2 linked regions of the Homo sapiens genome follow. The protein of the gene in region 1 interacts with the protein of each later gene in a biochemical or structural test. Each region holds a gene or a part of one and is shown in the gene's direction. Other genes may lie near its edges.

What was found. The genes of interacting proteins can lie anywhere in the genome.
Region 2: the proteins of TMED1 (region 1) and SEC23B interact in a test that uses a peptide from one of them, tested with the Homo sapiens proteins (one study listed by BioGRID).

The regions. Positions count from the first base shown.
Region 1 is NC_000019.10:10,833,213-10,840,381, reverse strand, and holds the start of TMED1 (transmembrane emp24 domain-containing protein 1 precursor), read left to right. Parts: upstream 1-4,169; 5' UTR 4,170-4,190; coding exon 4,191-4,373; intron 4,374-4,641; exon of another isoform or gene 4,642-4,779; intron 4,780-4,790; exon of another isoform or gene 4,791-4,850; coding exon of another isoform or gene 4,851-4,919; intron 4,920-5,028; coding exon 5,029-5,126; intron 5,127-5,264; coding exon 5,265-5,448; intron 5,449-7,168; coding exon 7,169-7,169. UniProt on the Homo sapiens protein: Potential role in vesicular protein trafficking, mainly in the early secretory pathway.
Region 2 is NC_000020.11:18,524,940-18,531,963, forward strand, and holds part of SEC23B (protein transport protein Sec23B), read left to right. Parts: coding exon 1-81; intron 82-848; coding exon 849-993; intron 994-1,433; coding exon 1,434-1,592; intron 1,593-2,556; coding exon 2,557-2,672; intron 2,673-5,740; coding exon 5,741-5,864; intron 5,865-7,024. UniProt on the Homo sapiens protein: Component of the coat protein complex II (COPII) which promotes the formation of transport vesicles from the endoplasmic reticulum (ER).

The DNA.
Region 1 (7,169 bases):
TACTGCACTCCAGCCAAAGTGAAGGAGTGAGACTGTCTCAAAAACAAAACAAAACAAAAAACAAAATGCAAAGTAACAAGTGTTGGTGAGGATGTAGAGAAACTGGAACCCTCATACGTGGTTGGTGGGAATGGAAAACAGTACAGCCACTGTGGAAAACACTTTGGTTGTTCCTCAAAAAGTTAAACATAGAAATACCATAGGATCCAGCAATTCCACCACGAGATCTATACCCCAAAGAACTGAACGCAAGTAATAAAATACACATACATACATGTTAACAGCAGCTGTACTCACAATAGCTAAAAGGTTGAAATAACTCTACTGTCCCTCAATAATGAATGGCTAAAGAAATTGTGGGGCCAGGCACAGTGACTCACAACTGTAATCTCAGCGCTTTGGGCACTGAGGCAGGAGAATCACTTAAGCCCAGGAGTTAAAGACCAGTCTGGGTAACACAGGGAGACCTCTTGTCTCCACAGAAAAATAATTAGCCAGGTGTGGTGGCGTGCACCTGTAGTCCCAGCTACTTGGGAGGCTGAGGTGGATCACATGAGTTCGGGAAGTGGAGGGTGCGGTGAGCTGTGATCACACCACTGCACTCCAGCTTGAGTAACACAGCGAGACTGTCTCAAAAAAAAAAAAAAAAAGAACAAAAGAAAAATTGATTGTGGTATGTACATACAATAGAATACTACTCAGCCATAAAAAGGAATTAAATATTGATACATGGTCTAACCCTAGAAACATGCTAAGTAAAAGAAGTTCAATACAAATGGTGACACATTGTCTGCTTCTATTCATATGAAATATCCAGAGTAGGTAAATCCCTAGAGGCAAAAAGCACATAGCTAGTTGAGAGGCGGGGGGCAAAGTGTAATGAGGAGTTGATACAGGAGATAGAAAGTATTTAGGCAGGCAGTGAGGGCAAAGAGTCCTCAGCAGAATTTCTTTTCTAACAGAAAGTAGCCCCTGATATCATTTCTTTTCTAATAAATAGCAGCCTGAAAACTCAAGCTGCAAACATAGATAAGGAAGCTGGAAGCTTGCACGTGGGAATGCTGGCAGCTGCACCAACAGAAAATGGCTACCTGGGAGCCAGGCATATCCAACACGGAGGCTCCATCTCCCCTTTTTTGCTACCACGTGTACAGGAACTAAGAAATGGGCAACATGGGGCTGGTCAAGGTGGCTCACACCAGTAATCCCAGCACTTTGGGAGGCCAAGGTGGGCGGATCATGAGGTCAGGAGTTCAAGATCAGCCTGGACAACATGGTGAAATCCTGTCTCTACTAAAAATACAAAAAATTAGTTGGGCGTGGTGGCAGGCACCTGTAATCCCAGCTACTGAGGCGGGAGAATCCCTTGAACCTGGGAGGCGGAGGTTGCGGAGAGCCTAGGTCACGCCACTGCACTCCAGCCTGGGTGACAGGGCAAGACTCTGTCTCAAAAAAAAAAAAGAAAAAAAAAGAAAAAGAAATGGGCGATGTGGCACAGCTCAGGTAGAGACCCCGGCTGCATAATAAAAGATTAGCAGATACCAGAAATTCACACCCTATGCAAATGGCACACCTGTTCTAACCAGTTTTTCATCCCCTATGTAAATCAGGCTAAGTCTCCTCACCAGCTCATCTATAAACCCCCCTGTATTTTGCTATGGACCAGCAACCCATTTTTCTGGGACTCCTCTCTGTAGCAGAGAGCTATACTCTCCGTTGCCTATTAAACGTTCGTTCTCAACCTCATTCTTTTGTGTGTCCTGGTCCTTGTTCTTCGTGGCTGTGAGACAACGACCCCGGGTGTTACTCAAGACAACGAGGCCGTTTCAGAATCACTGCTTAATGGGTACAGGGATCTTTACTGAGCCGATGAAAATGTTTTGGAACTACATAGAAGTCACTGCACAACACTGGAATGTACTAAATGCCACTGAATTGTTAATTTTAAAATGGTTATTTTTATTTTCTTTTTGACACGGAGTCCTGCTCTGTCGCCCAGGCTGGAGTGCAGTGGCATCATCTGGGCTCACTGCAAGCTCCGCTTCCCAGGTTCACACCATTCTCCTGCCTCAGCCTCCAGAGTAGCTGGGACTACAGGCACCCGCCACCACGCCTGGCTAATTTTTTGTATTTTTGGTAGAGACGGGGTTTCACTGTGTTAGCCAGGATAGTCTCGATCTCCTGACCTCATGATCCGCCTGCCTTGGCCTCCAAAAGTGTTGGGATTACAGGTGTAAGCCACCACACCCGGCCTTAAAATTGTTAATTTTATGCAATGTGAATTTTACTGTATTTAAAAAAATCAATTTTAGTAATCCCAACACTTTGGGAGGGTGAGGGAGCAGGCAGATGGCTTGAGCCCAGGAGTTTGAAACCAGCCTGGGCAACACAGGGAAACCTCATGTCTACAAAAAATTAGTTAGGCATGGAGGTGTACACCTGTAGTCCCAGCTACTCAGGAGGCTGAGGTGGGAGAATCACTTGAGCCCAGGAGGTAGAGATTGCAGTGAGCCATGATGGCGTCACTGCACCCCAGCCTGGGCAACAGAGCAAGACCCTGTCCTAAAAAAAATCCGGCCGGGTGCAGTGGCTCACGCCTACAATCCCAGCACTTTGGGAGGCCGAGGTGGATGGAACAGAAGGTCAGGATATCGAGACCATCCTGGCTAACATGGTGAAACCCCCTCTCTACTAAAAATACAAAAAATTAGCCAGGTGTGGTGGCACGTGCCTGTAGTCTCAGCTACTCGGAAGGCTGAGGCAGGAGGATCGCTGGAACCCCAGGAGACGGAGGTTGCAGTGAGTCGAGATCGCGCCACTGCACTCTAGCCTGGGCAACAGAGGGAGACTCTGTCTCAAAAAAAAAAAAAAAAAAAAAGGAAAAAAAAATTAAAAAAAAAAAGAAAAAAAAGAAAAGGAGTCACCCGTTCTCCACTGTTACTTCAAATTGTCCAAGCAGTGAGTGTAAATGATAGAAAAAGTTGGAGTGAAAAGGAATACCAAACTGATATTACAAAGAGCTACTTCCCCAAATTCTCCAAATGCAGGAAAGTGCTGACAACAGCCAGCTGTATTTGAGGGATCTTTGTCATCACCTGCCAACCTTTTCCGGGTTTATCTTTGAAGACTAAACATCTCCCTGTACACAGTTTATGTTTAGACGGGAACCAAATAACAGATTATTATTTACTGAGGGCCTGTGATGTCCCACGCACTGCGGAAGCAAGCACTCAACAAGCATTTCACGTATCCTAAAGACAGCCCAGTAGCGTAGGCCTATTATCCCCATTTTGCAGAAGAGGAAACTGAGGCTCAACAGAGGGAATGCCTCAAGTAATGGGTGGGGCAGGAGCTGAACCAGGCAACGTGGCTCCCAGTCCCACACTGTCCTTATCTCTTCCTACCTGGGCTGTCGTTTTTCTGACCCGAGGCTACTGTAATGGCTCTATTTACCTGCTGGCCCTTGAGTCTGAGACCCTTGGGGTGCATGGTGGGGCCACGCCCCTCCACTGTCTATAAGCCAGGAAAGCTGAGCACTCAATATGAACCAAGCCTCATCTCAATTCTCACAGCCGCACTACAGGGTGGTCGTTCCATCACTCCCGACTTACGAGGAAACTGATACGCTGATGCCTCTAAGGCGCAAAAGGCGTCGAACCTGGACCACGCTCACAGAGCAAGCAAAACACGACGCCACAGGTATCTCCGCCCCGCCCCAGCCCTTTTATAGGCGAGCCCTACGGGTCGCGTACAGGGCCACGCCTAGACGCTATTTTTGGGTCCACTCCACCACGTCGGTCCCGCCAAAGGTTGTCACGCGCGGCGCACTCTGGGAAAACCACGTGGAGGTGACTAAAAAGGACCCTGCCGCCTGTAACTTTAGTTGTCTTAGCTACTGCCTACAAAAGATGCGCCATCATGGCACTTATTTTTGTAATTTTCCTCCACCAGCGGCCGAGAAGAGAGCCGAAGCCTTTGAGAAAAATATTCCCAGACGGTTGAGTGTTTCTGGGCACATCAGGCATTCATTCGGGCCGCCTGCCCTCTAGTGGGGGGGTCCTTCACTCCTGGCACCTCTGGTTACGGACAACATACAGAAGCCACTGCCAATGAGCTCCGCCGAGTAGCACCGGGGCAGGGCTAGCGCTTAAAGGAGCCGCGACCCCTTTGCAGACCAGAGGGTGACCCGGATGATGGCGGCCGGCGCGGCCCTAGCCCTGGCCTTGTGGCTACTAATGCCACCAGTGGAGGTGGGAGGGGCGGGGCCCCCGCCAATCCAGGACGGTGAGTTCACGTTCCTGTTGCCGGCGGGGAGGAAGCAGTGTTTCTACCAGTCCGCGCCGGCCAACGCAAGCCTCGAGACCGAATACCAGGTAGAGGGTCGCGGGCTGGGCGGCCAGCAGAGTCAGGGAGAGGGGGCGTGGCCAAGCGGTCGAGGCGAGGCGCGCTTTAGGAGGAAGGGGGAGGAATCCGTGCTTGGGAGCGCGGGGGCGGAGCTAGAAAGAGATGGACAGATGGGGCGGGGACGGTGTGTGGGAGCGGAAGGGGAGGGAGTAATGAAGCAGGCGGGGCTAGAGTAAGAGATCCAGAGGGGGCGGGGCCATCGATAAGTATAGGGAGCCTCTGAGAGGACAGGACTCTGGCTGGTGGGCGTGGCGATAGTGCTGATAGGTCAACTGCGGGGGCGTTGCCCACACAGGCCTTTCTCGGGGGTTAGACTAAGGAAAAAGGCTGGGCCTATCCTCTTTCGGAGGCGGAGCCAACCAGGGGCGTGGTCAGGTAAACGTCCATTAAGTACTTTTGGTAGGTGCGTGGTCAGCTGAAAGTATGGACCCCAAGCTGTCATATCAATGAGGGTGGAGGCAAGGGGCGCAGCCACTGGGACAGGTTGGGGCGGGTGTGGGTGTGCCGCCGTTCAGGTAAGCCCTTGGTGGTCTGTATTGATCAGTGTTGGTTCAGCCGTAGCCCTCTTCGGCAGGCGCCCTTGGCCTACCGCTAGCCCTCCACCCGCTCTTACCTGCCCCCCAGGTGATCGGAGGTGCTGGACTGGACGTGGACTTCACGCTGGAGAGCCCTCAGGGCGTGCTGTTGGTCAGCGAGTCCCGCAAGGCTGATGGGGTACACACGTGAGTTCAGTCTTGATGCCTGCCTGGGTTCAGTTACAGCCCTGCCCTTCCCAGGCGGCCTCAGGTTACCGCCCTGACTGCCCCGCTGAGTCGGCTGGCTGGCCACCCTGGGTCATGTCTGTGTGTCTGTCTGCCCAGGGTGGAGCCAACGGAGGCCGGGGACTACAAGCTGTGCTTTGACAACTCCTTCAGCACCATCTCCGAGAAGCTGGTGTTCTTTGAACTGATCTTTGACAGCCTCCAGGATGACGAGGAGGTCGAAGGATGGGCAGAGGCTGTGGAGCCCGAGGAGATGCTGGATGTTAAAATGGAGGACATCAAGGTGTGTCCAGGCTGCGCTGGGGCCACTCCTTCCAGATCTCTAGGATTCACCTGGGGTGCCCCCCTTGGGCTGACCCAGCCTCCCCTCCGTAGTTGTGCCCTCCAACTGAATTATAGTAAGAGTAGCAGCTCTTAAAATAAGTAGTTCATTTCAGGCCGGGCACGGTGGCTCACGCCTGTAATCCCAGCACTTTGGGAGGCTGAGGCGGGTGGATCACCTGAGGTCAGGAGTTTTGAGACCAGCCTGGCCAACATGGTGAAACCCCGTCTCTACTAAAAATACAAAAATTAGCCGGGTGTGGTGGCGGGCGTCTGTAATCCCAGCTACTCAGGAGGCTGAGGCCAGAGAATGACTTGAACCCAGGAGGTGGAAGTTGAACCTGGGAGGCAGAGGTTGCAGTGAGCCGAGATCGCACCATTGCACTCCAGCCTGGGCAATAAGAGCAAAACTCCGTCTCAAAAAAAAAAAAAAAAAAAAAAGTAGTTCATTTCTAGGTATAAACCCTGGTGTAAAGGTTTAAGGAACTCATATCATAAATAACTCATACCGTAAATCTCCAAACCACCTTGTGAAGCAGACCCTGTGCTCAAGTCATCCCCATTTTACAGGTGGAGAAAGTGAGATACAAGATGGCTGAGCAACTCACGGCCACACAGACCAACTAGCAGAGTTGGTATTGAACCCATGCTGGTTTCAGCAACTATGCTCTTAACCACAAGCAAATATGTTCTGTACATTTATTAGTATTTTAATTAACTACTTATTTATTTATTTTCTAACAGATCTCTCTTGGTCACCCAGGCTGGATTGCAGTGGCACGATCTCAGCTCACTGCAACCTCTGCCTCCCAGGTTCAGCCAATTCTCCTGCCTCAGCCTCCTGAATAGCTGTGCCACCACGCCTGACTGACTAATTTTTGTATTTTTAGTAGAGACAGGGTTTCACCATGTTGGCCAGGCTGGTCTCGAACTCCTGACCTCAGGGGATCTGTCTGCCTTGGCTTCCCAAAGCTCTGGGATTACAGGTGTGAGCTACGGCGAGGCAAGGTCTTGCTGTGTCACTCAGGCTGGAGTGCAGTGGTGTGATCATAGCCCATTGCAGCCTCAAACTCCTGGGCTCAAGCAATCCTGCCACCTCAGTGGGACTACGGGTGTGCACCACCATGCCTAATTTTTTGTTTTCTGTAGAGACGAGGTTTCACCATGTTGGCTAGGGTGGTCTTGAACTCCTGGGTTTAAGTGATCCTCCTGTGTTTGGATTACAGGTGTAATCTTGCTTCAGCCTCCTGAGTAGCTGGGATTGCAGTTGCACATCACCACCCCTGGCTAATTTTTTGTAGAGATGGGGTTTTGCCATGTAGCCCAGGCTGGTCTCAAACTCCTGGGCTCAAGCGATCCTCCCACCTCAGCCTTCCAAAGTGCTAGGATTATAGGCATGAGCCACCATGCTCATCCTTGTACATTTATTTAGGCATTAAATGTTCACAGCAATTTGGAAGCTTATAGAAGAGGAAACAGGCTCAGATAGGTTAATTAAGTTGCTCATGGTCACAGCCAGTGAGTGGCAGGGTGAGGATTTGAACTTAGCCTGAACAAGTCTGTGTTTGCAGCTGTACCTCCCAGGGTTAATACAGCCTCCCTCCGTATCCCCCGGTTTTTTTGGTCTCTGCTCCCTGATGGGTGGAGGGAGGCCTGACCCTTCCCCTCCCGCTGCCCTGTAGG
Region 2 (7,024 bases), on another chromosome or scaffold:
GTTGGGCCTGACCAAGCCAGCCATGCCCATGCAGCAAGCACGACCTGCACAACCACAGGAGCACCCTTTTGCTTCAAGCAGGTGAGAGCCCAACATGGAGTGTTACACGTATTGTGATGGACATGCAGATGATCCATGGGAGTAAGGGAAGAAAAATATTAGAATTTGTATTTTCTTATTATTAGAGAAAAAGATAAATGATTAAGCCTAATCAATATTCAGTGTTTTGTCAAAAAGGTTTGGAGACCACTGTGCTCAATTGCTGTTTTTAGACATTCCACATCTGATGTCCTTTTTGATGCTTAAGTAAAACTGGAAAAACTGAAAAGACTTCTTTCATGTGTCCTCAAACATACTTATGACCGGGTATTCACTTGACTCAGCCCATTGAGTGCCTAGACTGAGCTAACAAGCTCGATAAAATGCATTGCCCGACATGCTGAAGACAACCTCTTACTTTCAAGGCTTAAGAGAAGCACAGATTAGAATGATGAGGAATGATGAAGATTGTCCACATAAATGGACCTCACATAGACTGAACTCATGTTAGGCATGTCCTTAGGATTTTTTTGCTGTCTAAAAATTAATTAAACTGAATTGCTCCTTTTCCAGACAATTTTTTTTTCCGTGCAACATAAGTAAATTGCTAAGTACTGGGCTTTATATTCCTCAATAAAACTGCTTTAAATTGTTTTGTGTTAGTAGAGAGATAGCTTTGAAGAAAAAAATTACCAGTCAGTTACTACTCTGAATAATTATCTTGAAGAGCAGTAATTATGTGGCACCTAGTGTTGAAGACCAGAGTACTTTATTCAATCTGGGTTGATGTGTCTGTTAAAATCTTGCAGATTTCTGCAGCCTGTTCACAAGATTGATATGAACCTCACTGATCTTCTTGGGGAGCTACAGAGGGACCCATGGCCAGTAACTCAGGGGAAGAGACCTTTGCGATCCACTGGTGTGGCTTTGTCCATTGCTGTTGGCTTGCTGGAGGTAATTTAAAATTTACCAGGACCTCTCAAATCATACAAATGTGCTCTCAGAAAATATATTTGTTGGCTTTGTTTGAAAATCACTTGTGATCTAAGTCAACCGTCTGTGTTAATGTATCAGAAAGCATTTGAGGCATCATTATCATTCACGTTGAGGGAGCCCCTCAACATTTTGAAAATGCCAAAAGTTTTCATTGAAAAACTAAGAATTAGAGCAATAGGGAGCACTCAAACAGCGAATTAATAAAACTGTGCAAACCCATAAGGTTGGAAGAAGACAAGTGCTGCTTTTCTGCATTATCATCTGTATTATTCTGCATTATCACCACTTTTTAGGACAGCTGGAGAGAATGCATCTTTGGAGTATTTCTATTGGGAAACTGAAACCATACTAAAAGGTGAGGCTGTATACTTCTAACATGCTGCCATTCGCTATTTTAGGGCACTTTTCCAAACACAGGAGCCAGGATCATGCTGTTTACTGGAGGTCCCCCTACCCAAGGGCCTGGCATGGTGGTTGGAGATGAATTAAAGATTCCTATTCGTTCTTGGCATGATATTGAGAAAGATAATGCACGATTCATGAAAAAGGCAACCAAGGTAGGTGCTCTTGGGTATGGGCTGTAATTCTGAAAGCCCATTGTCAGGTTTGGGCTGCTCTGGAGTGACAGCTACTTTGCCAAGGTCATGTGTCATGGTCAGCAAGACGCTGTTTCAGAGACAGTTTTCCAATCTTAGCTGCTGTTAAATTATTGCTCCTACTTTCAGACCTTAATTAGAGTGGGTGGCCTTAAAACTACTCAAAGGGTTTTGAGAATGAAAACTATATTTTTATTTTATTCAGATATTTTTGAAAATGATTTCCAGGCCAGTCCCGGTGGCTCACGGCTGTAATCCCAGCGCTTTGGGAGGCCGAGGCTGGCAGATCACTTCAGGTCAGGAGTTCAAGACCAGCCTAGCCAACGTGGTGAAACCATATCTCTACTAAAAATACAAAATTTAAGCCAGGAGTGGTGACTCACGCCTGTAGTCCCAGCACTTTGGGATGCCAAGGTGGGCGGATCACTTGAGGTCAGGAGTTCGAGACGAGTCTTGCCAACATGGCGAAACGCCTGTCTGTACTAAAAATACAAAAATTAGCTGGGCATGGTGGCATGTGCCTGTAATTTCAGCTACTCGGGAGGCTGAGGCACGAGAATCCGTTGAACCTGGGAGGCAGAGGTTGCAGTGAGCTGAGATCGTGCCACTGCACTCCAGCCTGGGTGACGGAGTGAGACTGTCTCAAAAAGTAAATAAAAATAAAAATACAAAAATTTGCTGGGGATGGTGGCGCACGCTTTTAATCCCAGCTACTTGGGAGGCTGAGGCAGGATGATCACTTGAACCCGGGAGGTGGAGATCGCACCACTGCACTCTAGCCTGGGCAACAGAGAGAGACTCTGTCACAAAAAGAGAAAAGAAAATGATTTACATGTTTTTATATTTGATTACCTCCTTCGGTAATTCAGGCATACCTTGGGAATAATGTCACTGTTTCCTAAAGATAGCTTTCCTCTCTTCACAGCACTATGAGATGCTTGCTAATCGAACAGCTGCAAATGGTCACTGCATTGATATTTATGCTTGTGCCCTTGATCAAACTGGACTTTTGGAGATGAAGTGTTGTGCAAATCTTACTGGGTATGTTGACAGTGAAAACCTGGGCAGAGTGACAGTGTTATTTTAAGGAAAGAGAAATTAGTGATGGAGCCATAGGAATGGGCAAGGCCAACTCAGAGAAGCTTTCAGGTAGCTCTGGGCTATGGTTTCAGTGACTGGGGAGGGCCTGTGGGCTCCTTGGAGAGGGAAGTAGTGATTAGTAGGAGGGCTCAAGAGTTCACTACAAATAAGTCGTTTCAGAGTAACTTATTTCTTCCTTAGAGTTGTTAACACTTTTACAGAGACCAGGCCAAGAAAGCAAGCAGCATGGACTATCTGGCCTTCATCAGGGCACTTCCTTTTGAGAATTGGGGAAAACAGGGTCTGAATGCTGAAACAACTAGGATAAACCTGGCTAAGTGGCCATACTTTGTGACTAACTCCAAGTGCACTCAGCCTAGAGGTTGTACTGACTCAAAGCCTGAGTCAGTATTGTATTCACAGGCCAGAGTGTGGAGCAGTGGTTCTCAACATGTGGTGGTGTCCAGATTTGCAGCCTTAGGGGCTCCTGGGAACTGATTGGAATTGTATATTTCTAGGCCTTACCCAGACCTCCTGAATCGGAAACCCCGGGAATGCAGCTCTCTAGGAGATTCTAGGGCACATGAAAGTGTAGGAACCACTGATGAGCACTGGTCTGCAGCTGCCTACGTATTGTTATCACCAGGGGAACTTTAAAAGCTACACTTTCTTTAGGTCTTGTCCTCAGAGATTCTAATTTAATTAGCATGAGGTGCAGCCTGGGCATCAGCATTTTAAAAGTTTCTCCCGTGATTCTAACATAGAGCCGAGTTTGAGAACCATGCAGCATCTTGAGCCTCACTCTAGACCTGAATCAGAACCTGCATTTGAACAATATCCCAGGTGATTTGCATGCACAGAAGTTTGAGAAGCATCATAGAGCTGTGGAATGGGCCTGAGAGTCTGCATTTCTAACAACCCCACAGGTGATGCTGCTGGTCCCCAGTGAGTAAAAGGAATAAAAGGTAGAACCAGAATCAGTTGGAGTTGTCCTAGAGAGCAGCAGATGAGTTAGGTGATAGAATTAGGGTCCCAAATGATACTGATGTAGCTATCTCAGTAATCCACATTTAATAGTATGAATTCCTACCACGGCCTTCCAGGAGTTCTGACTCGGAATGTCCATAGAAAAGCTTTAGTGTATTTGTGAACATCCCTTAGATTGTATGCTAGTTTGTGTGAATTTTTTCTGTGAAGAGTTACCATCTGTTGCACACATGTGTTAGTATAGCTCAAGGTGAGCCAACAGTGTGGGATGACTTCCAGCAAAGGCAAGGTGATTCCAGGCTGTGCTATAGGAGAAGATTATCTTCAGGGAAGACCATATTCTTGGTTTCTTTGGTGCTAGTCACACCTTATCCAAATACATTGTTTTCTGTTCTGAACATTGCAATTTCAAGGGGCAATAGGAGATGAATTGGAGATGTTTGAAGAAGAGCAGTGGTGGAGAGTCCTGGAAACTGTCATGTGAGGAATGATTGAAGTAGCTGGAAAAGATTAAGCTGAAGACACATGGGGGTGTGAGAACTGTATTCAGCAGTTGAGGGACTTCCCTGTGAAGGAATCTGATTTGTTCTGTATGTGACCAAAGAGTGGAACTAGAACCAAACCAGTGGGTGGAAGCTGCTGGCAAATGAAATTTCACTCAATATCAAGAAGGGCCTTTCTTAACAGAGCTGTTCAAACACAGAATGGACAGCTTGGGGAGGAAGCTCCCAATGCTGGAGGAGTTCAAGCCTAGTCTGGATGTAACTTGGCAGGTATTTTGCAGAGGGTTTGGTTGAGTGTTAGTATTAGAGTTGTGTGAATGTCACAGAAAACCCACAATAAGTTTATTTCTCTGGCGGTAGGCAGTCCGGGGCTGGTATGTTGCTTTCGTCATCATTACGGGCTGAGGCTCCTACTAAGCTGCTCTACCACCATTCATATGCCATCTGTGGCTCAAGACAGTTGCTGGAGCTCTAGCCATTTACAGCAGCAGGAAGGAGGAAAGGTCAGAGAAGGATTGCTCTTCCTGGAGGAACACACTCCACATATAAAGGACACAGCAATAGTCAGAACGCACATGCCAACAGAGGCACATGGCCATAGGCAAGGCAGGCTGGAAAATGTCATTGTTCCAGGAAACTAAGGAAGAGGTAGATATTTGGTGCCAAAGAGCTGACAGACGGTTCAGGCACTCTGAGATGGCCGGACCAGATGATCTTTCTTGTGTTCTTCAAGATTCTGAGATCTTGTTTTATGAATGACGTTTGGAGGCATAACTTGCGTCAAGCTGTGCTTTTCTGTCCAAATGCATGAAATGCTGACATTTTGCACAATGTTTTCCTCTAACTTCAGTAAGGGATTAATATTAATACTCATGAGTTGGAAAACATAATTCTTGTAAAGTCAAGAATTCAGTATTTTGAGGCAGTAAATTAACCTGAAAAGGATTTCCCACAGGCCTGGGTATTTTCCCATACCAAAGAACTGTGAGAGGAATTAGAGCTGTTCTTAAGGCTTCTGTTTAATGCTTTAGAAGTAGTTTCTTTGCCAAGTATGAATTTAACATGCTGTTTTTATTTTTTTAATTTATTTTATTATTTATTTACTTATTTATTAATTTTTTTTTTGTTTGAGAAACAGTCTTGCTCTGTCGCCCAGGCTGGAGTGCAGTGGTCCGATCTTGGTTCGCTGCAACCTCTGCCTCCTGGGTTCAAGTGATTCTCCTGCCTCAGCCTCCTGAGTAGCTGGGATTGTGGCTACTAATCTTTGTGTTTTTAGCAGAGATGGGGTTTCACGATGTTGGCTAGGCTGGTCTTGAACTCCTGACCGCAAGTGATCCGCCCTCCTTGGCCTCCCAAAGTGCTGGGATTACAGGCGTGAGCCACTGTGCCTGGCCTGTTTTTTTATATTTAAATTAATCAGTGGCTCTTTTGGGGACCTGGTTTCTTTTTTTCTTTAAATTATTTTTGTAAATACTGAGGGAGCATCTGAATGGCTTTCAATCTTCCTAATATTCACTTGATTTTTTTCTTCTTACCTAGAGGCTACATGGTAATGGGAGATTCTTTCAACACTTCTCTCTTCAAGCAGACATTCCAAAGAATCTTTACTAAAGATTTTAATGGAGATTTCCGAATGGCATTTGGTGCTACTTTGGACGTAAAGGTACGGTAAACTTTTTTTTTTTTTTATGTGGACTCACTGTACTGCCCAGGCTGGTCTCAAACTCCTGGTCTCAGGCAATTTTCCCGCCTCAGCGTCCTAAAGTGCTGGGATTATGAGGCATGAGCCACTGTACCTGGCCATACTTTTAAAACTTCAATGAAATTATAGTGTTCTTACTTTTTCAATCAATATCCAGACTTCTGGCAACCTCCACCTGCTGGACATGGGCATGTAAAAGCCAATTAAAAGGATCTCAACCAAATGGCTATTAAAAGCATGTTATTCACTTTATCCCTTTGCTTCTTGAGGATGACCTATATATTTATTTATGTTCTAAGTAACAAGCTGCCTGGTTCACCCTCAGGCTCTGCTCCACCCTGCTTCAAGGCAGTAGGAGATAGAAGAGGAAGTAGGGTGGGTGTTATGAGCAGCACTGTGGCCTGAGGACAGGGGCAGCCACACGGTGGTCTGCATCCACCCAGCCATCAGCATGGCTCACTGCATTGCACAGAGACGTGGTTATGTTTAATGTCTTCCTGAAGAATAGCCAAAGTACTCTAAAATAGCACTGGGCCAGGCATGGTGGCTCATGCTTGTAATCCCAGCACTTTGGCAGGCCGAGGTGGGCGGATCACCTGAGGTTGGGAGTTCGAGACCAGCCTGACCAACAGGGAGAAACCCCATCTCTCCTAAAAATACAAAACTAGCCGGGCGTGGTGGCACATGCCTGTAGCCCCAGCTACTTGGGAGGCTGAGGCAGGAGAATGGCTTGTACGTAGGAGGCGGAGGTTGCGGTGAGCCAAAATCCTGCCATTGCACTCCAGCTGTGGCAACGAGTGAAACTGTCTCAAAAAAAAAAAAAAAAAAAGACAGCATTTTGAGATTTTTTTTTTCCCATGTAGGGACTCATGGCCCTGATACAGCTGATTCTAAGTCATTGAGAAAGCATTAAAAGAGGGTGTTAGGCCAGGCACGGTGGCTCATGTCTGTAATCCCAGCACTTTGGGAGGCCAAGGTGGGGTGATTGCATGAGCTTTGGAATTACAGACCAGCCTGGGCAACATAGCAAGACCCTGTGTCTACAAATGATTTAAAAAAAAAAAAATTAACCTCGTGTGGTGGTGCACACCTGTGGTTCCAGCTACTCAGGAGGCTGAGGC